Linked DNA regions of Homo sapiens: regions 1 and 3 are each linked to region 2. Evidence: fine-mapped expression QTL. A gene starts in region 2. Each other region holds a variant in brackets. All regions are shown on one strand. Distances are from middle to middle. Region 1 overlaps SLC35E3 (solute carrier family 35 member E3). Region 2 holds the start of YEATS4 (YEATS domain containing 4). Region 3 has its middle 15 kb from the start of LYZ.

What was found.
Region 1: its variant is fine-mapped to the expression of YEATS4 in monocytes after LPS (Kim-Hellmuth 2017, PIP 0.95).
Region 3: its variant is fine-mapped to the expression of YEATS4 in whole blood (TOPMed, PIP above 0.99).

What each region holds. Positions count from the first base shown.
Region 1 is chr12:68,769,504-68,780,835 of GRCh38, reverse strand. SLC35E3 (solute carrier family 35 member E3) reads right to left here. Exons shown (of 5, transcript NM_018656.5): 5 at 1-11,332. It also overlaps the pseudogene LOC100422438. Among named protein-coding and RNA genes, the nearest start is that of SLC35E3, 29 kb to the right of the region's middle. The variant G/TTG (reference allele first, on the strand shown) is at 6,070.
Region 2 is chr12:69,354,487-69,363,317 of GRCh38, reverse strand. It overlaps YEATS4 (YEATS domain containing 4), which reads right to left and starts at 3,575. Exons shown (of 7, transcript NM_006530.4): 1 at 3,295-3,575; 2 at 411-530. The coding sequence starts at 3,345. RefSeq lists a silencer at 3,041-3,200 and enhancers at 2,626-3,227, 3,481-3,670, 3,228-3,831.
Region 3 is chr12:69,328,650-69,337,725 of GRCh38, reverse strand. No RefSeq gene overlaps it. Among named protein-coding and RNA genes, the nearest start is that of LYZ, 15 kb to the left of the region's middle. RefSeq lists enhancers at 4,842-5,556, 6,397-6,556. The variant T/C (reference allele first, on the strand shown) is at 3,445.

The DNA.
Region 1 (11,332 bases), 580 kb after region 2:
CTCAGAAAAGCATGCAGACATTTTTAAAAATCTTGACTAAAAAGCGTGACTAGCTGGGCGCGGTGGCTCATGCCTATAATCCCAACACTGGGAGGCCGAGGCGGGCAGATCACCTGAGGTCAGGAGTTCGAGACCAGCCTGACCATCATGGAGAAGCCCTGTCTCTACTAAAAATACAAAATTAGCCGGGCATAGTGGTGCATGCCTATAATCCCAGCTACTTGGGTGGCTGAGGCAGGAGAATCGCTTGAACCCAGGAGGCGGAGGTTGCGGTGAGTCCAGATCATGCCATTGCACTCCAGCCTGGGCAACAAGAGTGAAACTCTGTCTCCAAAAAAAAAAAAAAAAAAAAAAGTGTGACTAGGCCAGGCAGGACGGCTCACGCCTGTAATCCCAGCACTTTGAGAGGCCAAGGTGGGCAGATCTCTTGAGCTCAAGGTTTCAAGACTAGACAGGGCAACATGGTGAAACCCCATCTCTACAAACAAAATATAAAAAAATTAGCCAGGTGTGGTGGTGCATGCCTGTAGTCCCAGCTACTTGGGAGGCTGAGGCGGGAGTATCACTTGAGGCTGGGAGGTCGAGGCTGCAGTGAGCCATGTTTGTGCCCCTGCACTCCAGCCTGGGTGACAAAGTAAGACCCTGTCTCAAAAAAATACAAAATAAATTAAAAAGTGTGATTTTAGAAATTGTTAAGATTTAAAAATAAAAATTTTGAGCAAATTTAAATAAAAATATAACTGGTTTGGGATAACCAGATATCCTGCATTTTAGAAATAATGTTAGAAACTGGGGCCAGAGAAGTGGCTTAAAATGTCCCTCTTCATCCCTCCCTCTATGCTTCACAGCATAACCCATATTTATCCACTTATTTTTAATTTAATTTAATTTTACTTTTAGAGTCAGGGTCTCACTTTGTTGCCCAGGCTGGAGTGCAGTGGCACAGTCATGGCTCACTATAACCTCAAACTCCTGGGCTCAGGCAATCCTCTGCCTCATCTTCCCAAGTAGCTGGGACTACAGGTGTCTACCACCATGCCCGGCTAATTTTATAAAATTTTTTATAGAGACGGGGGTCTTGCTGTGTTGCTCAGGTCTTGAACTCCTGGCCTCAAGTGCACCTCCTGCCTTGGCCTCCCAAAACACTGGGATTACAGATGCAGGCCACTGTACCTGGCCCCCATATTTATTAATCACATTTTATTCATTCATTCATTTAACTTTCCTGTGAAGTTTTGCAAATGGCTTCCTCAATTCCCCCTTGTTAAGCTTTTTTTCCTTCTCAAACCATGCTTATATCCTTTCTGGTTCCAGCCACATATTTTGGGTCAGACAGTCCTAGCACTGTACTTTTAATATCACCTGGAGTGACTTCAGAGACTTCTTTGAAGCCACAAGACCATCTGGTTCAATACCAATATTTTGAAATCTAATGACTCACTATTCTAGAACATTCTCAACATTAAGTTTCTTAAAGATGGCTTAAATACTTTTTAAATTTAAATAAATGTACAGAAAACAAAAATCTTTTCATTTAAAACCTACCAAATATAGCCACACATGGTAGGGCATACCTATAGTCCCAGTTACTCAGGAGGCTGAGGCAGGAGGATTACTTGAGCCAAGGAGTTCAGGGCTGCAGTGCACTATGATTGTGCCTGCAAAAAGGCACTGCACTCCAGCGTCGGCCACAGAGAAAGACCTAGTTTTTTGTTTTTGTTTTTGTTTTTGAGACAGAGTCTTGTTCTGTCGCCCAGGCTGGAATGCAGTCTGGAGTGCAGTGGCTCATTGCAACCTCCACCTCCTGGGTTCAAGCAATTCTCCTGCCTCAGCCTCCTGAGTAGCTGGGATTACAGGGGCACACCACCACGCCCAACTAACTTTTGTATTTTTAGTAGAGATGGAGTTTCGCCATGTTGGCCAGGTTGGTCTCAAACTCCTGGGCTCAAGTGATTCACCTACCTTGGCCTCCCAAAGTGCTGGGATTACAGGCGTGAGCCACTGCATCCAGCCATAAGACTCAGTTTCTTTTCTTTTTTTTTTTTGGAGATGGAGTTTTGCTCTTTTGTCCAGGCTGGAGTGAAGTGGTGCGACCATGGTTCACTGCAACCTCTACCCTCCCGGTTCAAGCAATTCTCCTGCCTCAGCCTCCCAAGTAGCTGGGATTATAGGCACCCACTACTACGCCCAGCTAATTTTTGTATTTTTAGTAGAGACGAGGTTTCGCCATGTTGGCTAGGCTGGTCTCAAACTCCTGACCTCAGGTGATCCACCCGCTTCGGCCTTGCAAAGTGCTGAGATTACAGGCATGAGTCACCACGCCTGGCCGGCAAGACCCTGTTTCTAAAAAACAAAATAAAAAATAAATCTTCCAACTATTTATAATATGATCTCTGTTCATCTTTACTGTTATAAACATTCCTCAGGTACTTGAAAGGAGTGTGTGTTCTAGGCTTGTTGAGTACAGATAACCTATTAGACAAGGTTACTAACTTCCCTGCTGCCTGCTCTATCACCTCTATTAGAAGTATTTAAAATCTCAATTTTCCTTTTAATTTTCATGCTGTTTTCTGGGTTGTTCATGATTGCTATGTTTGTGGTGGATTGTTCTTTAAAAAAAAAAATCTTGATCCTATTAACACTTTTTGCCTCAAATTCTATTTTGTCTGCTATTGATATTACTACCCAAAATCCCCGCACCCCGCCCTTTTTTTTGAGACAGGATCTCACTCTGTCACTCAAGCTGGAGTGCAGTTCACCATCACGGTGGCTCATTGCAGCCTCGACCTCCCTGGGCTTGGGTGATCCTCCCACCTCAGCCTCCCGAGTAGCTGGGATCACAGGCACATACCACCATACCTGGCTAATTTTTGTACTTTTTATAGAGACGGGGATTCACCATGTTGGCCAGGCTGGTCTTAAACTCCTGATCTCAAGTGATCCGCCCACCTTGGCCTCCCAAAGTGCTGGGATTATAGGCATGAGCCACCACACCCAGCCGGCAGCAAACTGTTTATGGACTGGTACTGGGGCCCAGACCCTACCTTGAGTGGTACTGGGCTAGAGGACTTATTAATTGCATGATCTAGGAGTAGTTCATAAATTCTGTGATGGTCATTCTTTGGGTGAACTCCATTTCTAGCAGATTCTAGATAAGCAGCATGACTTCCTCTGATTCTCTGACACCTGAGGGTGGGGAAATTCAGACTGTCCCACTTGGGTTGTGCGTCTTCACGCTGGGGAAGAGGGTGAGGCCAAAGTTGTGTTGGGAGATAAATAATGAAATTCAAGAACTCCATGGTAACAGCCCTTGTCTTTCCTCTCTGGGGCCACACAGTGCAGTGTGGGGAGAGGAGTGGACAGAAGGAATGTCAGCATTTCCTTGGCAAAATCTCTTGCGTTTCAGAACAGCAGTGAGATTTTGGAGGTATGAGAGAGTCACAGGTGTGACATTCCTGTGAGGAATGCTATTTGAGTACAAGCAGTGGATGTCCTCATGATGTTATGATTTCAGAAGAATAGCACTGTGCTTGGCTGAAAAGTTCTGCATTCAATAACTCCATGCCAATAAGCAGCCATTTCCTCCCAGCACACAGTTGCTCACCAATGTCCATGGTCCTATGGCACTGGGAGGCCTCTGATGCAGCTGTCTCCCACTATGGTCTTAGGAAATTCCTGGAACGTTATTAGAGTGAGTTTTTCCTAGATCTGCTTACTGAATACCTGTTGAACTTTCACACTGATGGCCAGTTCCAAGACTTAAGCATGACCTTGCGACCATTGGTGATAGTGCTTTCTTGATCTGCTGAATCAAATTGAAGCAGAACTGGGGGTACTACTAGGAATGAGGGGTGACTAGGGATGGGGCTGGGGCGAGGGGTATATTGGGTAACTGAGGATGACCAGTGTCAGAGAGCACAAAGATGATGGTGAAGGGCAGGTAGACCACCTCCCACTTGGTGGGAAAGTCTGTTCCTGGCTGGAACTGGTTCATTCATTCCAAGCCAGCAACAGCTCCAGGTTTGGACGCCATTTATGAATCTACATGCCACCAGACCAGTCCCTGTCTTCCACACACCCCACTCTCTGGAGTCTGGAAAAATGGCGGGGGTGGGGCTAGCTACTAGTTTTTGTTTTTTTTTTTCTTTTTGAGACACAGTTTCATTCTGTCATCCAGGCTGGAGTGCAGTGGCATGATCTCAGCTCACTGCAACCTCCGCCTCCCAGGTTCAAGCGATTCTCGTGCCTTAGCTTTCAGAGTAGCTGGGACTACAGGTGCACACCATCACAGCTGACTAATTTTTCTTTTCTTTTTTTTTTTTTGAGACGGAGTCTCACTCTGTCTCCCAGGCTGGAGTGCAGTGATGTGATCTCAGCTCACTGCAACCTACGTCTCCAGGGTTCATGTGAGTTTCCTGCCTCAGCCTCCTGAGTGAGTAGCTGGGATTACAGGCGCCTGCCACCACGTCCAGCTAATTTTTGTATTTTTAGTAGAGATTGGGTTTCACCATGTTGGCCAGGCTGGTCTCCAACTCCTGACCTCAAGTGATCCACCTGCCTCGGCCTCCCAAATCGCTGGGATTACAGGCGTGAGTCATCATGCCTGGCCTTTTTTTTTTTTTTGTGAGACAGAGTTTTGCTCTTGTCACCCAGGCTGGAGTGTAATGGCATGATCTCGGCTCACTGAAACCTCTGCCAGGCACACGTCACCATGCCCGGCTAATTTTTGTATTTTTGGTAGAAACGGGGTTTCACCATGTTGGCCAGGCTGGTCTCCAACTCCTGACCTCAAGTGATCCTCCTGCCTTGGCCTCCCAAAGTGCTGGGATTACAGGTGTTAGCTACCAAGTCTGGCCTTTTTTTTTTTTTTTTTTTTTTTTTTTTTTTGAGACAGAGTTTCGCTCTTGTCACCCAGGCTGGAGTGTAATAGTGTGATTCCAGCTTACTGCAACCTCTGCCTCTCGGGTTCAAGCCATTCTCCTGCCTCAGCCTCCTGAGCAGCTGGGATTACAGGCACACGCCAGCATGCCTGGCTAATTTTTATATTTTTAGTAGAGACGGGGTTTCACCATGTTGGCCAGGCTGGTCTCGAACTCCTGACCTCAGGTGATCCATCTGCCTCAGCCTCCCAAACTGCTGGGATGACAGGCGTGAGCCACCACGCCAGGCCCTATTTTTATTTTTAACCAGTGCTGTAGTTTGAATATTTGTCTCCTCCAAAACTCATCTGGAAACATCCCCAATGTGGCAATATTGAGAGATGGCGCCTTTAAAAGGTGACTGGGTCATGAAGGCTCTGCCCAGTGAGACTGGTGCCTTTATAAGAAGAGGAAGAGAGACCTGAGCTACCATGCTCAAGTCCCTCACCACGTGAGGCCCTCTGCCACCTTGGGTCTCTGCAGAGAGTTCCCAGGAACAAGAAGTCTCTCACCAGATGTGGACCCTGTACCTTGGACTTCTCAGTCTCCACTATTGTAAGAAATAAATTCCTTTTCTTTATAAATGACCCAGTTTCAGGTATTCTGTTCTATGCAACACAAAATGGACTAAGACAACGAGTACGCTTAGTTGTTGCTTCCTGAGTTCCAAAGTCCGACAGACAGAGCAGGTCCTCCATTCTTGCCCCTTTTTACCCCAAATGCTCATTGGCATTCTTGCAGCTACGAGTAATAATTAAAAGTGGCTAAGCCAGGCTGGCATGGTTGCTCACGCCTGTAATATCAGCACTTTGGGAGGCTGAGGCAGGAGGATCACTTGAACCCAGGAGTGAGACCAGCCAGGGCAACATAGCAACACCCTGTCTCTAATTATTATTATTTTTTTAAGTGAGTAAGCCAAATAGGGGTTTACTTTTCATCTAGAACAAGAAGACGTGTTGGCCAGGCTGGTCTCAAACTACTGGGCTCAAGTGATCCACCCACCTCAGCCTCCCAAAGTGTTGGGATTATGCGTGAGCCACCGCACCTGGCCACAAGACCCAATTTCTTTTATTTTATCTTTTTTTTTTTTTTTTTAAGAGATAGGGCATCTAACGGCATTGTTTTAGCTGCTCAACACTTTTTTTTTTTT[G/TTG]CTTATTTTTGTTTGTTTTGTTTGTTTTTGAGACAGGGTCTCCCTCTGTTGCCCAGCATATAGTGCAGTGGCATGATCATGGCTCACTGCAGCCTCAACCTCCCAGGATCAGGCAATCCTCCTGCTTCAGCTTCCTGAGTAGCTGAGACCACAGGTGCACACCAATATACCTAATTTTTTTTTTTTTGAGATGGAGTTTCACTCTTGTTGCCCAGGCTGGAGTGCAATGGCGTGGTCTCAGCTCACTGCAACCTCTGCCTCCCTGGTTCAAGCGATTCTCCTGTCTCAGCCTGCCGAGTAGCTGGGGTTACAGGCATAAGCCACTACGCCCAGCTAATTTTGTATTTTTAGTAGAGACAGGGTTTCTCCATGTTGGTCAGGCTGGTCTCGAACTCCTGACCTCAGGTGATCCACCCACCTCAGCCTTCCAAAGTGCTGAGATTGCAGGTGTGAACCACTACGCCTGGCCACCTGACTAATTTTTAAGTTATTCACAGAGAACAGGTTTTGCAATGTTGCCCAGGCTGGTCTCAAACTCCTGGGCTCAAATGATCCTCCTCCCTCGGCCTCCCAAAGTGCTGGGGTTACAGGTGTGCCACTGTGCCTGGTCGGCTCACCACTTTCAGATCTGGCTCTCTTCACCTCTCTTTTATAGTCATAAGCTGATTAGCACAATTCTAGACATCCGCAGCTACATTTAAGGCAGGAAGGAGGTGGTAATAGACACTACCAGCCACATCTGTCCCTTTTAATCAGGATACCCTAGAAATCCTCAGCAGACTTTGAATTATGTGCCATTGGTGAAATGTCATATGATCATCCCTCTACAAGGCAACGAGGTAAAAAGAGAATTTAGTATTTCTAGCCTCTAGAGTGGAGATGAACAAAGAATAGGAATGGGCATTTGCTTAGGAAACCAACTGTGCCTTACAACATTTTTGCACTTTTTTCTGTAACATTTTGTGTTAAATCATATAAAAATGCTGATCCTAACAAATATGGTCAATGAGTCACACCATAATTCTCTAAGAACTCCAGTCCAAAAAGGTTAATCTTGCTTTTAAACTCCAGGCGCGGTGTTTCACAGCTGTAATTTTAGCACTTCGGGAGGCAGAGCAAGAGGATCACTTGAGGCCAGGAGTTGGAGACCAGCCTGGCAACATAGCAAGACCCCGTCTCTACAAAAAATAAAATTATCTGGGCCTGTTGGTGCACACCTGTAGTCCCAGCTACTCAGGAGGCTGAGGTGGGAGGATCACTTGAGCCTAGGAATTCGAGGCTGCAGTGAGCTGTGATTGCACCACTGCACTCCAGCCTGGGTGACAGAGGGAGAACCTATCTCCAAAACAAAACAAAATAAAAACAAAACAAAACTCCAAGCAGAGAAAGACTTGACGAGTCGGATGAGTCTGATGATTCCTAAAGGAAATCCTTTTTGAGATTCCAGGAGATTCCATCTCCTCAACAGAGTAATTGATTTTGAGCCTCCCACCTCCTGAATTAAGGCCCACCCATCCCTATCCTGCACTGAACTGTAGACTCTTTTTTACTTCCTTACAAAAGTTTATTCTTAAATGTACAACAGACTCCAAGACGACACTTTATTGTAGCTATAGGTGGCAAAAGATGTTATGGCAGAGAATCCAGATGTTTAAATAGGAATGGGGTCAAGGGTCACCGCCCCAAGCACGGATAACAAAATTTATTTTTTGCCAGATTTCTTTAATTCCACCTGTGACTGGTGAGGGCTGGTGGCGGGGTGGCTTTCACTTTTAGCTCCTCTTTTTGTTTCTGCTTGAACGTCCCATCTTCCTTACCCACCCCCTTGACCTGCTTCTTGAGCTTTCTCAGGGCTTCTTGCCACCTTTGCAGCTGTACATGGCACCTGCCATAGGGCTCTAATTTTAAACTGAGAAATTGAGAAAACAGGAAACTGACTCTTTTTGGGGGGAGAGTAAGACAAACAGGAAAAGGAAAATGAAGACGTGGTTGATACAGATCGTTGGATTTCAAAAGGAAAAGTCTACGGATAACCGAAAAAAATAAATATTTAGAAATGCATAGTCTTGGCTGGTTAAATAAGTATCCATGCTTGTTCTTGTGGCATAGTAGTTACGAGACATTTTTAGTTAAATGGAAAAATGTGAATTACTATAGTTTGAGTGATATGCTGCTTTCCAAATTAAAAGCAGCATAACAAAAACATTCCCCTAATACTCATAAATAATTCATTGAATTGGCAATAATTCACCTCCTAATGACTTCATATGAAGTATAAAGTAACTTCGATACATCAGAAGAAATCCTATCTTCTAATATAAGAAAGTAATATGATTACATTAAATGCGTCTCATATAAGTTATAAAAATGGTATCTATGAGTAAAGAAATGCTTGTGAACAAAAAAATTGATCTTATAAAGGTCAAACAGGCCAGGCGTGGTGGCTCACACCTGTAATCCCAGCACTTTGGGAGGCTGAGGTGGGCGGAGTACCTGAGGTCAGGAGTTCAAGACCAGCCTGGCCAACATGGTGATACCCTGTCTCTACAAAAATACAAAAAATTAGCTGGGCATGATGGTGGGTGCCTGTAATCTCAGCTACTCGGGAGGCAGAGGCGGGAGAATCGCTTGAACCCGGGAGGCGGAGGTTGCAGTGAACTGAGATTGAGCCACAACAACCAAGCCTGGGAGACAGAGGAAACTCTGTCTCAAAAAATAAAAAATAAAAATTAAAATTAAAAAAAAGGTCAAACAAACCAAACCCTTCTGATTAATTTATTCAATCTACTTTTATTATAAGCAAATGAGAAATTATAATTTTAATCTGAAAAAGCAGAATCAGGGGATTTTGGAGCTGGACAGTCCCCTGGAAATTATTTGGATCAAAGCCCTCATTTTATAGGTGAAGAAACTGAGAAGTAAGATTTGAGCAAGCTGCCCAAAGGCTTTGCCAAAGGCTATACCAGTGAATGGCAGAGTCTGGACTGGAAGTCCCAGTGCTGCCGTCCAGGTGAGACCTGTTCCACTGCATGCTACTAGCTCCCGGGCTGAGACCGGACTTTTGCTTGGCAGGTTTCTTTCTTTCGAAACTATTAATTATTGTATTTTTTGTAGAGACAGGGTTTTGCCATGATGCCCAGGCTGGTCTTGAACTCCTGAGCTCAAGAGATCCACCCAGCTTGGCCTCTCAAAAATGTTGGGATTACAGGCATAAGCCACAGTGCCCGGCCCATTTTCCTCCCACCTCTTTGTTCCTTCTCTGTTTCTTTTGCAGCATTATGTTCTATCATTGTATACCAGAGTTCCTCAACTTCAGTTATAGTCTGTTCTTGCTTTATGCTATCTTCTTCAGCAAGCTCATCTTGGTCTGTTTTCCTCCTTATCAGGCATACCCCAGAAACTCCTGTTTTATCTCCACCTCAACTAAACATTTTCCTGAGTTCTGGGCCTCTATAAACTAATTATTTGATTAACATCTTTTTTTTTTTTTTCTGAGATAGAGTCTCTCTCTGTCACCCAGGCTGGAGTGCAGTGGTGCAATCTCAGATCACTGCAGCTTCTGCCTCCCAGATTCAAGCGATTCTCCTGCCTCAGCCTCCTAAGTAGCTGGGATTATAGGCATGCACCACCGCACACAGCTAATTTTTGTACTTTTAGTAGAGACGGGGTTTCACCATGTTGGTCAGGCTGGTCTCAAACTCCTGATCTGAAGTGATCTGACTGCCTCAGCTTCCCAAAGTGCTGGGATTACAAGCCTGAGCCACCATGCCTGGCCAACATCTTTAATTGGATATCTCAGTATCAAGAAGGCCCATAATATTCCTCTGCCTCATCCCTCTCCTCAGTCCTCTTCTTGTGTTTCCTAGTTCAGAGAATGGCACCATTCTCTATCAAGCTGCGCAAATCAGACATGTGTGATTTTTTGTTGTTGTTGAGACAGGGACTCACTCTGTCACCCAGGCTAGAGTGCAGTGGCGTGATCATGGCGCACTGAAGCCTCAAACTCCTGGGCTCAGGAGATCCTCCCGCCTCAGCCTCCTGAGTAGCTGGGACCACAGGCCCACACCACCATGCCCAGCTAATTTTGTATTCTTTGTAGAGATGGGGTTTCATCATGTTTGCCCAGGCTGGTCTCGAACTCCTGGACTCAAGCAATCCACCCACCTCAGCCTCCCAAAGTGCTGGGATTACAGGCATGAGCCACTGTGCCCAGCTGAAGTGTGATCCTTAACTTCACCCCTTCTCATGCCCTCCATTTCCAATCCATCTCCAGTCCAGTTGACTCCAGCTACTCAATTATTTCCACTTATCTCATTCCACTACCTTTGAAGCTACCACCATCTCTAACTACAGTCATCTCCCAACTAACTGGTCTCCTGGCATCTCTCTGGTTCTCCTCCACTAATTTCAAAAAAAGAAATTTACTGTGACAGTGCTCACAACACTCCCCCTTGCTCTTACTAAAGATGCTTACCATAGCCTCCAGGTATTGTATGGCCTGAGGTCTATCTACATTTCCAGGTGCAGGACACACCATGTCTCCCCACTCCCAAATTTAGTCTCCAGACTCCATCCTTTTTACAGTTCTTTAAAAGCATCACAATTCCTCCAACCACTAGGCATTTGTATGTGCTATTCCCTCTTTCCAGAATGCAATACCCTCCCTCTGCCTAGCTAGCTAACTTCTATGTATCTATGACTGCAGCTCAAACTTTCCTCATGGACTCCCTCCACAAGTGCCAAGCCTGGGCCAGATTCTTTTGTTATGTGCTCACAGAACGATGTTCCCTTTAGCATTCATTGAGTTTGCTGTTTAATTATTCTTGTCTTGTTTTTGTTTAATTAGTCCTATCTCTAATACTAGACAAATGTTCCTTAAGATCACAGGAAATATAGGACTGTCTCTACATAAAAACTGTTTTATATCCATAATGCCTAGGACAGTACCTGGCACACAGTATATGCTCAATAAATTTTTGTTGAATGAATGCAATTATCATTATATTCCTGATATTAGCAGGTATAATCCAGTTTAAGTTTGGGAACAGAAAGACAAAACGGACCACATCTAATAAATCCGGTCTCCTTTCTTTTATTATTTATTTATTTGAGACAGTTTTGCTCTTGTTGCCCAGGCTGCAGTGCAATGGCATGATCTTGGCTCACTGAAACCTCCGCCTCCCAAGTTCAAGGGATTCTCCAGCCTCAGCCTCCCAAGTAGCTGGGATTACAGGCATCCACCACCACGCCCAGCTAATTTTTT
Region 2 (8,831 bases):
TTACTATAAAAAATTACAGGTTGTCGGCCGGGCGCGGTGGCTCACGCCTGTAATCCCAGCACTTTGGGAGGCCGAGGCGGGTGGATCACGAGGTCAGGAGATTGAGACCATCCTGGCTAACATGGTGAAACCCCGTCTCTACCAAAAAATACAAAAAATTAGCCGGGCGTGGTGGCGGGCGCCTGTAGTCCCAGCTACTCGGGAGGCTGAGGCAGGAGAATGGCGTGAACCCGGGAGGCGGAGCTTGCAGTGAGCTGAGATCGCGCCACTGCACTCCAGCCTGGGCGACAGAGCAAGACTCCATCTCAAAAAAAAAAAAAAAAAAAAAAAAAAAACTACAGGTTGTCTTTAAGCAAAACAAATTACAGACAACTTTAAGTAAAACAGTTACAGAAAAAACGAGTGCCTACCTCATTTCTATATGGTTTCACATATACTGTCCACTGATGAGTGTGCCCATCTTCTTCTCTTTTCTTTCCAAAATACCGAGCAACATTACCGTAAACTATTGGTTTAACGATAGTAACACCCTAAAAGAAAAATAATTTTAAAATAAATGAATATTGTACCATTAGCTAAATATGCAGAATAAGAGCTCTGAAAACTTGCTTTAAAGAATGGCAGGCTAACAATCTATAGTTTGCTTATAATATGGATTTCTCTCAAATCAATTTCAGACACATCCTTTCATATTAACACAAAAAACGCCAGAATAATTACAATGTTCCCTCTTTGAAAATGCTTTTATTTAAATTACCATGTAAAGCGCTTTTAGAGTGTTGTTAAAAGAAATGCAAAAGGCCTTTTCTTAAACACCTGAAAGCTAGGCATTGAAATAAAAATGGCCAATTCTGACTGGCATCACCTGTGGCAATGTCCTTATCACCTAGCCTGTGGCAGTGTTTCCCAAAGTATAGTATAAATATTAGGAGTAATTTGTGAGAGGTAGAATAAAGGTCAAACATTTTTCACTTTTTTACTTACGTGTTTAATCAGTATTAAAAAATAGTAATAACTGTAACTAGAAATTAAAACCTACAATTTCACCAAGGTGGGTGGATCACCTGAGGTCAGAGGTTCAAGACCAGCCTGGCCAAGATGGTGAAACCCCACCTCTACTAAAAATACAAAAATTAGCTGGGCTTGGTGGTGTGCATCTGTAATCCCAGCTACTTGGGAGGCTGAAGCAGGAGAATTGCTTGAACCTGGGAGGCAGAGGTTGCAGTGAGCCGAGATCATACCATTGCACTCCAGCCTGGGCAACAGAGCGAGCCTCTGTCTCCAAAAAAAAAAAAAAAAAAAAACAACCAAACACCCTACAATTTAAAAAACATTAACGCTTAGAAAGAGGCTTTTAAAAAATAAACTGATTTAAATGTAAATGTTACAATAAATATTACAGTTGAATTCAGACATGGCAAAAATGGCCAAGAGTCACTTGGATGACTGAAGCTTGGTAAATAGTGGCTGATGACATGTTTGCTACATTTGTCCTTAGTTTAACATACATATTTCTTATATCTGATAAGTGCAAAGGCAGTGCGTATTGACAGATTATGTTGGAAAGATAAAAAATTTCAATTGAAGTGAAAATATTGAATGTTGCACATGAATCTGAAACCAATGGCTCAGTTACAGAAATGTATCTGAAGAACAATGAGCAAGATTTACCACATGTGAAAAGTGCTGAGTGAATGTAACCAACAACAATAAAAATGAAGAAAAGCGGCCAGGCACGGTGGCTCACGCCTGTAATCCCAGCACTTTGGGAGGCCGAGGCGGGCAGATCACCCGAGGTCGGGAGTTCGAGACCAGCCTGACCAACACGGAGAAGCCCCCGTCTCTACTAAAAATACAAAATTAGCTGGGCATGGTGGCGCATGCCTGTAATTCCAGCTATTCAGGAGGCTGAGGCAGGAGAATCGCTTGGAGGCAGGAGAATCGCTTGAATCCAGGAGGTGGAGGTTGCGGAGAGCCGAGATTGCGCTAGTGCACTCCAGCCTGGGCAACAAGAGCAAAACTCCGTCTCAAAAAAAAACAAAACAAAACACACACACACACACACACACACACACATAAGTATTTTAAAACCTACTAATTATTGCTATTTTTTTTTTAAAGAAACATTGTCTTGCTCTGTCGCCCAGGCTAGAGTGCAGTGGCACGATCTCAGCTCACTGCAACTTCCGCCTCTCGGGTTCAAGCGATTTTCCTGCCTCAGCCCCTCTAGTAGCTGGGATTACAGGTGCCCGCCACCACGCCCGGCTAATTTTTGTATATTTAGTAGAGACGGGGTTTCACCATGTTGACCAGCCTGGTCTTGAACTTCTGATCTCAGGTGATCCACCCTCCTCGGCCTTCCAAAGTGCTGGGATTACAGGCGTGAGCCACCTTGCCCGGCCCTGCACGTTAATTTTTAAGGCAGGACCCACTGGCTCCTGATAAAAACAACTATTTGTACCCCTTCTGATTTTTATTTATAAAGGAAAGGAAATTTTTCTTTAAAAAGAATGAACCACGGCTGGGCGCGGTGGCTCACGCCTGTAATCCCAGCACTTTGGGAGGCCGAGGTTGCAGTGAGCCGAGATCGTGCCATTGCGCTCCAGCCTGGGCAACAAGACAGACACTTCGTCTCAAAAAAAAAAAAAAATTAACGTGCCAGGGGCTGTGTGAGGGAAATAAATATTACAATGTCAAACATTACGCTAGGGTCTATGGTAATTTCATCAAAAACAAAAGAAGTTGACATTTACTGAATGTTCCCCATGTGCCAGGCACAGTGTTATGCTCTTGCTTTGAGGCTTTGTGAACACCATGAACTCCAGCAAATTTTCTTAGCTTTCGTATGCCTCGGTGTCTCAGTTACCGCACTTGGAAATACTGCGGGTAAGCGCTCAGCGACTGTTTGCTACAGTTATTGTTATCCTCACACCAGGAGGGTGGCGTCACCGCTTCACCAATAACCTAGATTGGCAGCGAATGTGCACCAAGCTGAGCTTTCCCAGCCCTCGGAGTCGCCCGTTTCCTTGGCAGCCACGTCCGGGTTTCCCCAAGCCACCATTTATCTGTTTGTTTTTTGGCGGGGGTGGGAGTTGGCAGTGACGCGAGGAAGTTGGGGCCCAATGAACGCCGGTTTTTCGCTCAATGGCTCTGACTCGCTCTCCAACCTGAAACCACGGTTCAAACCCGAGGAGAAAAGGCGCGAAAGGAAACCCAGTGGGCCCTCCCCGCGCCGCGCAGGGAGGAACCGAGGCGGGAGAGCCACCCCGGAAGAGGGGCGGTCCGGGCACTGACCTTTACTCTCCCGCCGGAGTCAGGCCCAAATTCGGCCATTCTCTTGAACATATTGTCCCACGGAAGAAGCCGCCGCCGCCAGGGAAAGAGACCGGGGCTGGCGGGGTCGCCGCTCCCCTCAGAGACCGCGCTCCTGTCGCGCGGGCCCAGGCGGAGGGTTTCTAGCCGAAGGAGGGCGAGTTACTTGGGCTCACGGCGGTGAGTAACCGTCAACTCCTCAGGCCGACTGTGCTCCTGAAGGCCATTCAGGCCCGCGCAGGTGGAGAACGCCGCGAAAAGAGGGGCGACGGCCGCACCGCGCGCAGGCGCAACGGGCTCGCGTATGCGCACGCAGTGTACACTGCGCACGCGCCTGGCGGCTGCAGTCACATCACAGGACCAGTGCAGGAGTTCCAAACCAAAAAAAAAATGAAAGGCAGGAAATAATAAATGACTTCAAAAAGTTGTCCAGATGTTAAGGAGATGAGTTTCCACACTGAAAGATCCTACTAAGCACCCAGCACAAATATTAAAGCATCCACGTCAAGGCATATCATTGTGAATTTTCTGAACATCGAGGAAAAAGAGATCCCACACCCTTCCAGGTTATACAGACTATAGAATCAGAGTGGCTTCAGATTGCTCAGTTAGAATCTAGGAAGCCATACGGCACTGTCTTCAAAACTCTGAGGGAAAATTACTTCCGATTTAGTCTTCAATACTCATCCAACTACCAATCTAGTGTGTGAATAGAATAGAGTTTCAGATGTGCTAAATCACTACACACAAAAAATAGTACCTATCTTACCTTTCTCAGTACCTCCAGGAAGATCCTGTAGATCTGATCCACCAAAATGAGGGAATAAGCCAAGAAGGAGGAAATTATGAAATGCAGGAAATACAATAAATAACAAACACAGAAAATAGTAAGATCCCAAGATGATACTGAAAGAGCTCCGGGAACAATAGCTGTGTATAGGCATAGACGGCAACGCATCTAGATTAGATTCGGTCAGAAATCTTTGGGAGACACTGCTTCAGAAGGATGGGATTGACAAAATTCCAGCTGGCGTTGAATCAAGAGGAGATTTGACCGAGAGTTTGGAGTTTAACTCATGACAGGTACACAGAAAACTAAGCGGCTGTAAGAATTATGCAGCTATTAATTCTAGGGAAAACAAAATCTTGTGCAAGAAAGGAAAGTAATTGTATTTATTGTTACATAAATACTGAGTATTGGCCGGGCGCGGTGGCTCACGCCTGTAATCCCAGCACTTTGGGAGGCCAAGGTGGGCGGATCACGAGGTCAGGAGATCGAGACCATCCTGGCTAACACGGTGAAAACCCGTCTCTACTAAAAATACAAAAAAATTAGCCGAGCGTGGTGGTGGGCGCCTGTAGTCCCAGCTGCTTGGGAGGCTGAGGCAGAAGAATGGCGTGAACCCGGGAGGCGGAGCTTGCCTTGAGCCGAGATCGCACCACTGCACTCCAGCCTGGGTGACAGAGCAAGACTCCGTCTCAAAAAAAAAAAAAAAACAAAACAAAAAAAAACTGAGTATTGATCCCCCCTCCCCCTCAAAAAAAGAATTACATTTAGAAGGATGGGCTTTGGAGAAGGGTACTATGCTTGATGGGGATGGAGGAGGAGGAAATAGAGCTTAATCTTTAACTTCCATAGTAGGAAGTCAGTATCTTAAAATGGAAAAATCAAGAAGAAGCAATATAGGTGTAATATTGAAAAGCATGGAGATAAATATTTTAAAAAATAAGCTAAAAGAGTAGAAAATACTGCTGATTGTAATTTTTAGTAATTCCACTTAACAACTGTAAAGAAAATACTTTTTAAAAGACTTCACTAAATAGAAGTGCAAGGGATGTGCTCAGGGCTTAGTTATATTAGTGCCACATGAAGAGCTCAATTGTCATATGGATGTCACTGCATTTCAACCAAGATAGGAACTGAGTTTCTTTGAAAATGATCAAACATTGATATTGATTTTTATTCTGTTGCCAGAATAAGAGTAGAAATTTGGTTTGGGGGCGTAATTATATTTAAAACAATTGGTATGACTAAGAAATATTTATCAAAAACTAAAGCAAAATCTCCAACAAACATTGCTTTCCCTCTTCAGTCTACTTTGTCTAATCTCTGGCAGTTTCCTCAATCAGCCTGTGTTGTTGGGTTATCCTGGCACTTCTTGGACATGTCCTATCTCTGTTTCTCAGCTGTCACTCTTCAACTCTCTCTCCGCTACCTTGACTCATCCTTTGTACACCTCAGGGTATCTCGATATGCATAAACTCATTCGTTTTTAGTTTAATCACGTCAGAATGGTCCAAGAATTTTGAAGCCAAAGGTTGCACCTATGTAGTGGCCCTCTGCTGCCCTCACATGGCTAGTCTATGTGCTGCATTTACATAGCCAAGAAGTGGCTTGGAACCCCGCAAGCGGTTGTACTGGAATCATGTGGCCTTGAAGAGTTAATTAAAAAAAAAAAAAAAAAAAAAAAAAGGCTGGGCGCGGTGGCTCGCGCCTGTAATCCCAGCACTTTGGGAGGCCAAGGCGGGCGGATTACGAGGTCAGGAGATCGATCTCCTGACATGGTGAAACCCCCTCTCTACTAAAAATACAAAAATGAGCTAGGCGTGGTGGCGAGTACCTGTAGTCCCAACTACTCGGGAGGCTGAGGCAGGAGAATCGCTTGAACCCAGGAGGCGGACGTTGCAGTGAGCTGAGATCGCGCCACTGCAGTCCAGCCTGGGTGACAGAGCGAGACTCCGTCTCAAAAACAAAAAGCTTAGAATGTTCAGTTTGGAGGGAACATACTAAATAATCAGCAAGAGATTTATTCGATCAACTGATATTGATTGAGCATGTACCATGTTCCAGTCACTCTTCTAGGTGTTTAGAATACAGAAGTGGAATGAGTGAAAAATTTCTATTCTTCCTATCAGGACAGTGGTTCAGCATATTATAAAATCAGAGATGTATCATGGTAAGGAGGGTGTCCAGGTGTTGGGGAAGGAAGCAACCCACTGAGGGATGTCAGAGCCTGAGTGGAGAGCACTTGGGCAGAGTTGGGGAATTGGTTACATACAGGCAAACCCATCAAATACGTAAATGTACTAAGGATACATTTTAAGGATAATGAGTATAATGGATGCTAAGTTACTTACTGTCAGAGAAGAGAGTTAAAACATGCGAAAGAAGAAAACTAGAGTGAATCCTGTGGTGTGAGATTAGAATTGGAGATATTGGTGTGGATTCATGATTTTCAATATAAATAGATAGATATAGAGATAAATATAGTGTAAATACATATATCTTCCAGCTCTGTTCACTGATAGGGCCTGGAAACAGTGATACCCTAGTGCCCAGATCCTGTTTTTTTAATACTATTATGCACTTTGAGGAATCAGGGCTCCTTGGAGAAATGCCTTTTCCATTTTTGGAAGCAAGGAAGGAACAAGGTGAGCCTTAGAATATCTTGTGCCAGAAAACAAGAAAGTGCTTGAAGAATGATGGAAATATGTCGAAATGGCACAGAAGACAACTTGCAGGGGCTCACTGGCCAAATCGAGGACAGTGTGAACATCAAAATAAATAATAGTAATGGACTATAACTCCTTATGATTTGAATAAAATAGAAGCCATGGGTCCATACTGATATAATAAATAAATGCATGACCAGGCACGGTGGTTCACACCTGTAATCCAGCACCTGGGAGGCCAAGGCAGGCAGATTGCTTGAGCTCAGGAGTTCCAGACAAGCCTGGGCAACATGGCAAAACCCCATCTCTACTAAAAATACAAAAATTAGCCAGGCATGGTAACGCGTGCGAGTAGTCCCAGCTACTCAGGAGGCTGACGCGGGAGGATTGCATAAGCCTGGGAGGCAGAGGTTGCAGTGAGCTGAGATCGCGCCACTGCACTCCAGCCTAGGCGACAGAGTGAAATCCTGCCTCTAAATAAATAAACAAACAAACTGAAAATTTGATGAGCAGTAGTCTCAAGGCACCTCCTCCCCAAATACTTTACAGTGAAGATGGCTTGCAGGCCTCACCTTAATCAAGTGATCCAAGTGAACATCATCAATAATGGGGCAAATCAAAACTGCAAAAACTGAATGCCACCTGAAAGGATGCAGTGAGAACATCACTTCTGTGGTATTCCTACCAAAGATGCATAACTTAATGGAATCGAGAGAACACCAGAAAAACCTTAGGTACATTCTATAACATAACTAGTCTGTGGTCTTCAAAAGTGGCAAGGTCATAAAAAGTCCAGAAAGAAACAACTGAGGAAATAATCCAGATTCAAAGAGACTTAAAAAACATGACAACCAAATACAATATGATTCTGAATTAGATGCTTTTGTTATGAAGGTCTTATTGGGACAATCGATGAAATTGAGTGGAATCTGATGACTAGGTGGTAGTAATGTATCAGTGTTAATTTCCTAATTTGGATAATTGTTTTGAGGTTTTATGCAGGAGAATGTCTTTATAGGAATTACACACTGATGTAATCAGGGCCATTGGGTATCATGTTGGCTATTTACTCTCAAAACAGTTCTGAAAAATAAAAGATCTTTGTACAGTACTTTTATATTTTTTAAAAGATTGAGTTTATTTCAATGTTTTTTTAAAAAGTGGAAAAACCTCTGTCATTTTGGAAGTTATATTTTGGTGAGAAGAGACAAATAAGTAAAATATGTAGTATATAAAATTATTATAGACTTGAGCCCTGAGGCACTCTCACATTTAGAAATTAAATAGCAGAGAAAGAGTGAGCAAGAAGGACTGAGAAAGAACAGTCAGTGAGGTAGGATGTAAATAAGGAAAAGCCAAGGGATTAAAAAACTGCTAAAAGTATGAAGCGGTTCACTTTGTCAAATGCTGCTGAGATGAACAAGATGATCACTGGAATTAGCACTGAGGAATCATGGGAGAAATCCTGGAGGAGCAGTTTCAGCTGGGTGAGGATAGAAGCCAGATTAGAGAGGGTTGAAAAGACACTGGGAGGTGAGGTCATGGAGTTGGTAAGTACAGACATACTTCCCCAGAAGTCTTGCTGTAAAGGGAGCAGAGAATGGAGTTGCAGTTGGAGGATTATGTAGGGTCAGTGGAGTATTTGTTGTAAGATGGAAGGTTACTAGGGCAGACTGTAGAATGATGGAGGTGATCCAGCTAAAAGGGACAAACTAGGGATGCAGGAAACAGCCTGACTTGGAGTAGTGAGAGGGATGGGAGGGAAACTGCATGTGGAGTCAGTGCTGTTGGCAGGAGCAGAGGCTCTTCATCCTGATAATAGGAGGGAAGGAAGGAAGGATGGGCCTGTGGGAAGGTATGACTGCTGCTTTGGGATGTAGAAGGGAAAGCTTGGTATGAAGTTGCTTTTGTTTTAGAAGTGTAATATGAGGCCAGGTTATCTGCTGAGAGCAGAGGAGGGTGGAGGATAAGGGGGCAGAGGAGGAGGCTGAATGTGTGTCTTGAGGCTTTGAAGAGAGAAGAGGAAAAGTAAAATAGTAACAGTCATTTTGGAGACTAGGGACATA
Region 3 (9,076 bases), 26 kb after region 2:
CACTATCTTATTCTTTCCTCCCTCACTCCCCCAACTCTAGTACACAATACCTCTGTGAGGTGGCTGTTTGCCAGCATGGAAATACTCTATTTCCAACTCCAGTACACAATACCTCTGTGAGGTAGCTGGTTGCCAGCATGGAAATACTCTATTTCCACCTCAGTCAAGTAGAAACTGAACCCACAAATGTAGTGCCATTTACACCCAGGCCTTGCAATCAAGTCAGCCTGACCCAAAGAGGATAAGGGCTGGTATCAGTGTCTCACACATCTATTTTGTGTGGGTTTTTTTAGTTCCAGAAACACTGTGTTGAGATCACACATTTATTTTAGAAAATAATTTCCTTGACTGCTGTTTCAAACTGACATGTAATTGAAGACTAACAGTAAATTAGAAATGTTATTTTAAAAATAGGATGCTAAACCCTAATCTGCTACTACTTGACTACTAATTTTTGTGAAAACAAAGGGAGTAAAATAAACCTAAACACATAAAAACTACACTTAGAATTATCATATCTATGTAAGGAATTCAATCACACTGCAAGTTAAATCTCCTCTGTGGAGTGTAGCATCTATTTTAGACCTGAATTTCATGTATGGACTTCATGATAACTTCATGTTAGTACATGGCTTTCTTACTAATCCCCTTAACTCCAGGTTTTCTCTCTTCTGACCCACTCCACACCCAGAACGTGCCATTCTTGAACTCAGAGGACTTAGTGTTAAAAACACACATATGTCATTACATATCATCTATGACTTCATTTTCTATTATTGTTTGCTGTTGTATTGTCTTTATAACTGCTATCATGAGCTTTTCGAGGGCTTATGCTCCTTTAAACCTTTGCTTCTGCCTTCCCAGTAAGAAACCTTCACTTGTACAATGTAACCACTCAACAAATTTGGTAAAGTCACTGTATAAAAAATACATCCCACCTACAATTAAATTGTTGCTCTTCTCTTCTGAACATGTGTTTTAAAACAGGATTCTGACGTTACATATGATGCAATGAAGTAACACAAAGTTCTAAATAAAAGCCAACCACAAACTACAGAGGAATGTGTTTTTTTAATTATTAGAAAATAATTACAAAATATAGCTTAGAGTTAAAAAAAGAGAGAGAATAGTTTTTATTTATTTATTTAATTTTTTTTTTTTTGAGATGGAGTCTCGCTCTGTCACCCAGGCTGGAATACAGTGGCACAATCTCAGCTCACTGCAACTTCCGCCTCCTGGATTCAAGCAATTCTCCTGCCTCAACTTCCCTGAGTAGCTGGGATTACAGGCGCCCACCACCATGCCCAGCTAATTTTTGTATTTTTTAGTAGGGACAGGTTTCACCAGGCCAGGATGGTCTCAAACTCCTGACCTCAAGTGATCCGCCCACCTCAGCCTCCCAAAGTGCTGGGATTATAGGTATGATCCACCATGTGAGCTACTGTGCCTGGCCGAGAGAATAATTTTTAAAAATACACAGTTAACTTAGCCCTCTGGAATACATTAGAAATAAGACCATATGTTTGAGGCACAGGATTTCTCATACCAATCTGGGTAGAAACTATTTGAAGGTATGATTCAATACTTCATTTAAAGTTAATAGGGGATTGGGTGCCATGGCTCACACCTGTAATCCCAGCTCTTTGGGAGGCCGAGGTGGGCAAATCGTGTAAGCCCAGGAGTTCGAGACCAGCCTGGGCAACATGGCAAAACCCCATCTCTACAAAAAATACAAATAATTAGCCGGGCGTGGTAGCATGCGCCTTAGTCCCAGCTACTCGGGAGGCTGAGGCAAGAGGATTGCTTGAGCCCAGGAGGAACAGAGGTTGCAATGAGCTGAGATTGTACCACTGCACTCCAGCCAGGGTGACACAGAGAGACCCTGTCTCAAAAAAAAAAAAAAAAATTTAATATGGACAAAAAAATTCCACTTTCATTGCTAAGAACACTATAATTTTATTATAGAATAAGGTCCTGTATAACATTTGGTTACAAAGTTTAAGAATTTATCTATTCATTAGTTCAATATAATAAAAGTTTTTTTTTAATCGAGACAGACAGGGTCTTATTGCCCAGACTGAAGTACAGTGGCGTGATCATAGTTCACTGCAGTCTCAACCTCCTGGGCTCAAGGGATCCTCCTGCCTCAACCTCCTGAGTAGCTGGGACTACAGGTGCACCACCAGCACACCCAGCTGATTTCTCATTTTTTGTAGAGATAGGGTCTCACTACGTTGCCCAGACTGGTCTCAAACTCCTGGGCTCAAGCAATCCTCCCATCTCAGTGTCCCAAAGTGCTGGGATTACAGGTGTGAGCCACTGCGCCCAGCCAAGAATAAAAATTGACTGAATATTTTTCTATGTAAGAGGCACTGTATTGATGCTGAGGATACCAAGGTGAAAAAACATGGTTGTTTTCTTCTACAGAACATGCAAACCAACAATTATAATCCAATGTAATAGTTTTAATGGTGATAGCTACAAAGTGATGATGGAGCATGGAGGGAACCTGAAGTCTGTCTGGAAGAGATGGTGAACGCTTCATAGAATTTCAGCTGAATGAGAATTGGGGGAAGAATAGAATTTTGTTTAGTGGACAAGTGGGGTAGAAGACTTGTGGTAGAAACTTCCAATACTCACCCATATCTAGTTCCCTCTCCTTCCAGGCACAGAGGAGGATTATACTTCCCTGTCCCCTTGTAGAGTTAGGCGGAGTGATGTAGCTAAGTCTAGGCAATGAGCTATGGGTAGAAATGTCATTTCTAAGCTGAAACATTTAACTGCTGGTGCAAAACACTCCAGTGCTCTTACTTTTCCTTGGCAACTGATGAAGTTGTATGTTTCAGAAAGTGTAGCTAGCTACCTGATGGTGGAACCTCCGGCAGCCTGAGCGTCTGAGTGACTATGTGGAGCAGAGCCACTTGCTAAACTGTGATAGGCATTTTGGAATGAATAAGGAATAAAATGCGTGTTAAGCCACTGACATTTTGAAATTGTGTTATTTCAGCATTCCAGGTAGAGGTAAACATATTTAAAAATAAAAGAAAGGAAGAATAGACAAATCTTCCATGCAGGAGAATTTCAAGTACTTTATGTAGATACTCTGCCCTCAAGGAAGTATTGAGGCTGTGCATAGTGACTTCCTTCCAAAGAATACAGTATGGAAACGAGGGAAAAGAATAATTTCACAGGAGAGAAACCTGACAAATTCTACTTCAGTCAGTAGATCAATGTTAACATCAACAGTGATAAGCCACATTGATAAGTATGCATCCTTGATATGATGTGATGAAAATGGTATTTGCCTCTGTGGTCTTTCTCTCCAAAACATATAACCCCAGTCTCACCATAAGAAAAACATCAGACAAACCTCAAATGAAGATTATTCTACAAAATACCTGATGAGTACTCAAAACTGCCAAGCTCATCAAAACAAGGAAATTC[T/C]GAGAAACTGTCACAGCCAAGAGAAGCCAGAAGAGATACAACAACAAAATGTTATATGCCACCCTGGATAGGATCCTGTAACAGAAAAGGGGCATTAGGTAAAAACTAAAAAATCTGAATAGAGTATGAACTTTAGCTAATAATAACATATCAATATTGGTTCATTAATTGTAACAAAGGTACCTTATTGATGTAAGATGTTAGTAATAAGGGAAAGTGGGTGTGGGGAATACAGAAATGAACTGTCTTATCTTCAGGATTTTTTTGTAAATCTCAAACTATGCTGAAATTAAAAGTTTATTTAAAAATAAACACTGCCTCGGCAACATAGTGAGATTCTGTCTCTTAAAAAAAAAATTGGCCAGGCATGATGTTACATGCCTGTAGTCCTAGCTACTCTGGAAGCTGAGGTAGGAGGATCACCTGAGCTCACGAGGTAGCGCCATCATTGTGCCACTGCACTCACTCCAGCCTGGGTTGCAGAAGGAATCTCTGTCTCAAAAAAAAATAAAAATAAAAAATAAAATAAAAAAAGAAAAGAAAGGAAAAAAGGTATAAGAAAGAATATGGTATGCTGTGGAAGTTCCTTTCAAAGTAGAAAGTGGAAGTGAAGAGCTTGGCTGGGTAAATGAAGAATCTTTTATGCTATTAAAAGGAAATTCCATTTTTATTGTATAGGTTAGGTGAAGGATCCCTAGAAGATCTATGGATAGGCTTCAGAGGTGTTGCTAAACCTCCAAAATTATATAAAATTATATTGCATATTTTTCTCAGAAGAAAGTAAAAAGCTTTATTATTTATTCTCAAAAGTATAAGTACCTAAAATAGGTTAATAATCACTGCTGAAGGCAATGTAAAAACTGAAGTCTTCCGAGTAAAAGGAATGACACAATTGTATTTTTTTGTGTGCCAAAAAGGACCATAGATCACTTTTTGCTAGGACAGACTAAAGTGATTTGGTGTGTGTGGGGGTGTGTGCGTGTTTGGAGAAGGAAGGCCAAAATGAAAGGCAAGATGATAATAAAGACAGTGATCTTCAAACTTTTGAACGTGGTACATTTTGCAAGGGGAGAAAACTGTTGGGATTCACTCAGGATGGTGGCAGAAAGAATAAAGGGAAATATTAGGGAAAGTTATAGGAAATAGTCACAAACCTTTTAGAAGGCCGAAAGTTTACATAGCTTGTAATAATTGAACAGGCCAAGGCGGCCAGTTCTTACCTTAGAGCATTAGGTCATAGGGTAAATACAAGGGACAACAGAGGCTTCCCCAGTTAAGTCTGTTTACCCAACTTCAATTAACTAACCTTTGAGCCAGATGGCCTTCTCTGGGGAGGTCTACCAAGGATATTGCCCCCTAATGGTATTTGTTACACGCGTCCCTGTGAAGAGACCACCAAACAGGCTTTGTGTGAGTAACAAGGCTGTTTATTTCACCTGGGTGCAGGTGGGCTAAGTCTGAAGAGAGTCAGCAAAGGGTGGTGGATTATCATTAGTTCTTAAAGGTTTTGGGATAGGCGGTGGAGTTAGGAGCAATGTTTTGTGGGCAGGGGGTGGATCTCACAAAGTACATTCTCAAGGGTGGGGAGAACTACAAAGAACCTTCTTAAGGGTGGGGAGATTACAAAGAACCTTCTTAAGGGTTGGTGAGATTACAAAGTACATTGATCAGTTAGGGTGGGGCAGAAACAAATCACTGTGGTGGAATGTCATCAGTTAAGGCTATTTTCACTTCTTTTGTGGATCTTCAGTTGCTTCAGGCCATCTGGCTTAGCTTGGGCTGAGAGGCCTGATAGTATTTACCTGAGACCGTGGTACCTGAGTTTTAATCATTCCTAGAACTACTCTCTTAACCATGTTAATTATCCACAAGTGTGTTTACTCAAGTTTACTCAAAGTGTGTTTACTCAAGTTTACTCAAAGCTTCTGTTGTTAATTGTATACTAAATAAATGCCTGGAGTTCGAGCTGCTCAGGGCCGTCCACAGTGACAAACCTCTCTAGGTGTGCAGGCGGCTGGACACTCAGCTGGACTGGCAAAACAGAATATCTGTGTGTCAGTGTACGTTTTATTCATCTGTCGTTTGGGTCAGGGTCTGAGGGCAGACCCCGCGGCTAATGCCTTCACGTGTGAGGAGCAATACCTCAGCTGGTGGCCTGTGTGAGGAAACCCGTGTGAGGAAAGCCCTGTGAGGAAAGCCGTGTGAGGCCAGTCAGGGGTCTGCAGAAACAGACTCCCCGCAGTTGGAGCCCCTCCTGAGGCAAGCTGCCTAGGAAGAGTGAGGACTGCCCTCATGAGGAAAGCTGCGAAGGAAGCGTGAAGGAAAAGCGACGGACCCCCCGGAAAACAAAGGTGAAGAAAGGAACCGCGCGGTCAAGTCAGTGAGTAATCAGCAAGTCATTGGTGCCCACTCAAAGTTACCAAGTTCTGGGGGAAGTTGGGTCAAGCTGAGTTTTCATCATGGGACCACAGTTATTAGCACAGCAGAAACATTATATGAAAGTATTAAAACAGTTACTTAAGGCTAGCGGAGCCTCAGTTTCACAGGCTCAATTAAGGGACCTAATCATCCATGCTAGACAAACTGTTGCAATGCAAACTCTTGTGATCCCAAGCCCGTGGTTCCCGGAAGAAGGAACGCTAGACGTAGAACTCTGGGAACAAATGGGGAGAAATCTTAACATGTGCAAAGGCAACAGGTCCCAGTAACAGCTTTAACGTTATAGGCTTTAATTAGAGCAGCCTTAGCTCTGTTACACGCAGAAGAGCCTAAAAAGAGCAAGGAGGAGAAAATGTCACCTGCCTTATCACCTCCTCTTCCCTCCACCCTAATATCACCGGGCCGAAATAACAGAGGAAACGGGGGTTTATACCTGAGCCTCCTCCTCCAATAGATAGGAAAAAAGACCTAGGATATGCTACAGCTATCAGTCCCTGTCTTAAGCGGGCAGCATTAGAAGCAGAGCTCTTACTCTGCCCAGTAATGCAGAATCGGCAAGGCAATCAGGTGTATGTTTATAAAAAGATAAGAAAAAAGGCATTAGGAGCCGAAAGCCGTGCAGCCGAGCAAGCAGTAAATAAAAAGAAAGGCTCGGCAGCCCGGAAGTTCACAGAAACAGAGCCAGCACAGGCAAAAGGCAGCGCTTTTACAAGAGTAAAACAGCTACCGCCCAGGGACCCGCCGGCTCAGCTCTCTAGCTCTGCAGGTGACCCAAGGCAAGTGCTCCTTGTTTACAAGCGACATCCCAGATTATAATTCTCTGCTAAAATTTAAGTAAAATGTAAGAATTTGAAAAACCTCTTTTCTGATAATGGCCACTGTTGCTCTCTCTCTCCTACCCCTGACGTAGCTCTCCAAATCCAATTTAGGTAAAACAGTAACCTCTGAAGGGAGAGAGATTACAGAAGGCCGATGAATTAGTTAAAGAGTAGTTAAAAGCTAGGCATGTAAAACCACACATTACCCTTTAAAGGAGAACTTTAAACCTAACTAAATCATATTTGTTAAATTAGAAGAAAAGTTGTATGTAAGTGTAGTGAAAGCATATGCATGAATGACTGTCGTAACCCACTGATTAGATAGTCTTTTGATTTCTACTTGCTAAAAGAGTCCTGAATTCAGTTTCCCAACTACTGGGTCACTGTTTTCAAGACTGTTGGCCAGATTAAAGTCCATAAACTTGATCAGCTTGAAAACTCAATTGCAAGATTTAAGCTGTTCTGCCTGTGGCTTTAAGCACATGGTTAAAGTATATTATTTAAGTTTCTGCTTCTAGAGATGCTTTCAGATTTTCTTTTTAAATTTCATGTTACTTATTTCAACTTGCCATCTTAATGATTAATGCAGTCAATTGCTAAGTTATAACCCTGATATCATCAGGATTCCTTTAAGTAAAAGGTAATTCGAAGCGGTATTGCACTTCCCCATACCTAATGCTTTAACACTGTTTACTGATGGGTCTGGTAAACATGGAAAAGCGGCAGTCTAGTAGAGACCACACAATTCCATCACTCAGAGTTTACTAGCACTCAGAGAGCTGAGGTTACTCTGTTTATTTATTAAAGAACTTTTACAGCATGAAGTTAGCTCTGGAGACCACTCTGTGTGCTCTTTTTCTCCGACTTCAGCAATTGCTACACCAACGTACACATCCTGTTTTTATTACACACATTCGAGCCCACAGCTCTCTGCCTGGCCCATTGGCTTATGGCAATGATCAAGCAGCTCTTCAGGTTGTAACATCACTGCTAGACCAAGCCACCCAATTGCATCAATTTTTCTACTAAAATTAGAGAAACTCATCTTAAACAACTTCAACTTATACAGAGATTGGCTAAACAAATTATCTGACGGTGCCCAGATTGCCAGCTCACAGGCACAGCCCCTCTTTCAACAGGTGTTAACCCTAGAGGATTGGAACCTAATCAGTTGTGGCAAACAGATGTTACATCCCTAAATTTGGGAAACTAAGATATATACATGTATCCGTTAATACCAACACTCACCTAATTAGTGCACATTAAAAAGAGAAATAAAGGGAAAGAATGAGTAAGAAAGAGACTAGAAAAGACAGATCAGAGACAGACACAAAAAGACTAAGGAGAGAAAGTAGGAAGAAAGGAAAGAAATATTAAAGTTACAGATATAAGAATGCACCTTTAGTAAGGAAGGTTATAAAACATAGTCAGAAAGTTAAGCCATGTTAAAGATTGTCTGTGAAAGTTGTGAAGAATGTTATGAAAAGGAATTTATGCAGGAAATATATAATTTTTGTTTTGAAGGTCTAAACAAGTTTTAAAACGTTAATTGTAAAAAAAATTCTGTGTGTAAACATATTGGCTAAAATAAAAAAGGTATCATCCAGTTTTTCTGTAAACTAGACATTAAAGTACAACAAGTTTTTCTTAAAACACTAACCTGCTCTTTAAAGACTGTAAAAAGTCTCTCAGCACAGGCACCACCCCTAGAATTTCCAGTACACCAGCACCAGCCTGGAGACTACATTCTTATCAAAGGATGGAAAGAAGAAAAAACTCAAGCCAGCCTGAGAAAAGACATACAGGACCCGCAGCCTCAACAATGTGGCTTCCGAAGACAACACAGGTCCCAGGCATTATGCTAAAGAAGGAAAAGTCTAAGCCAGATAATTTATTCATTTTAAATTCTCTCACTTTACCTACTACCTATACCTGCTACACTCTATTAAGCTCATCCCTTAAATCTGCCTTTTTTCAGTCCTATCATCTAGGCAGACACTCCCTTTCCAGCTTCTAACAATATCTACGTGTCAATGTATGTTTTATTCTTCTGTCATTTGGGTCAGGGTCTGAGGGCAGACCCCTGCAGCTAATGCCCTCAAGTGTGAGGAGCAATACCTCAGAAAACTATCCCAAAACCTACTTTACTCCACCTGTTGCTACTTTTCTGAGGAAAAAGTACTGAGTAATTATGATGAACTGTCACTTAAAAAGTCAAGTTTGGTTGAATTATATACATCTACTTTAGCATTATGCTTATGAATATTAACATCTGAAGCAAAATGCATATATGTTGTTAATTATAATTATAAACATAAAGCATTGTGATGTAAATCTACACTTACGGGAAATGATCATTACAAAGCAAAAAGGCA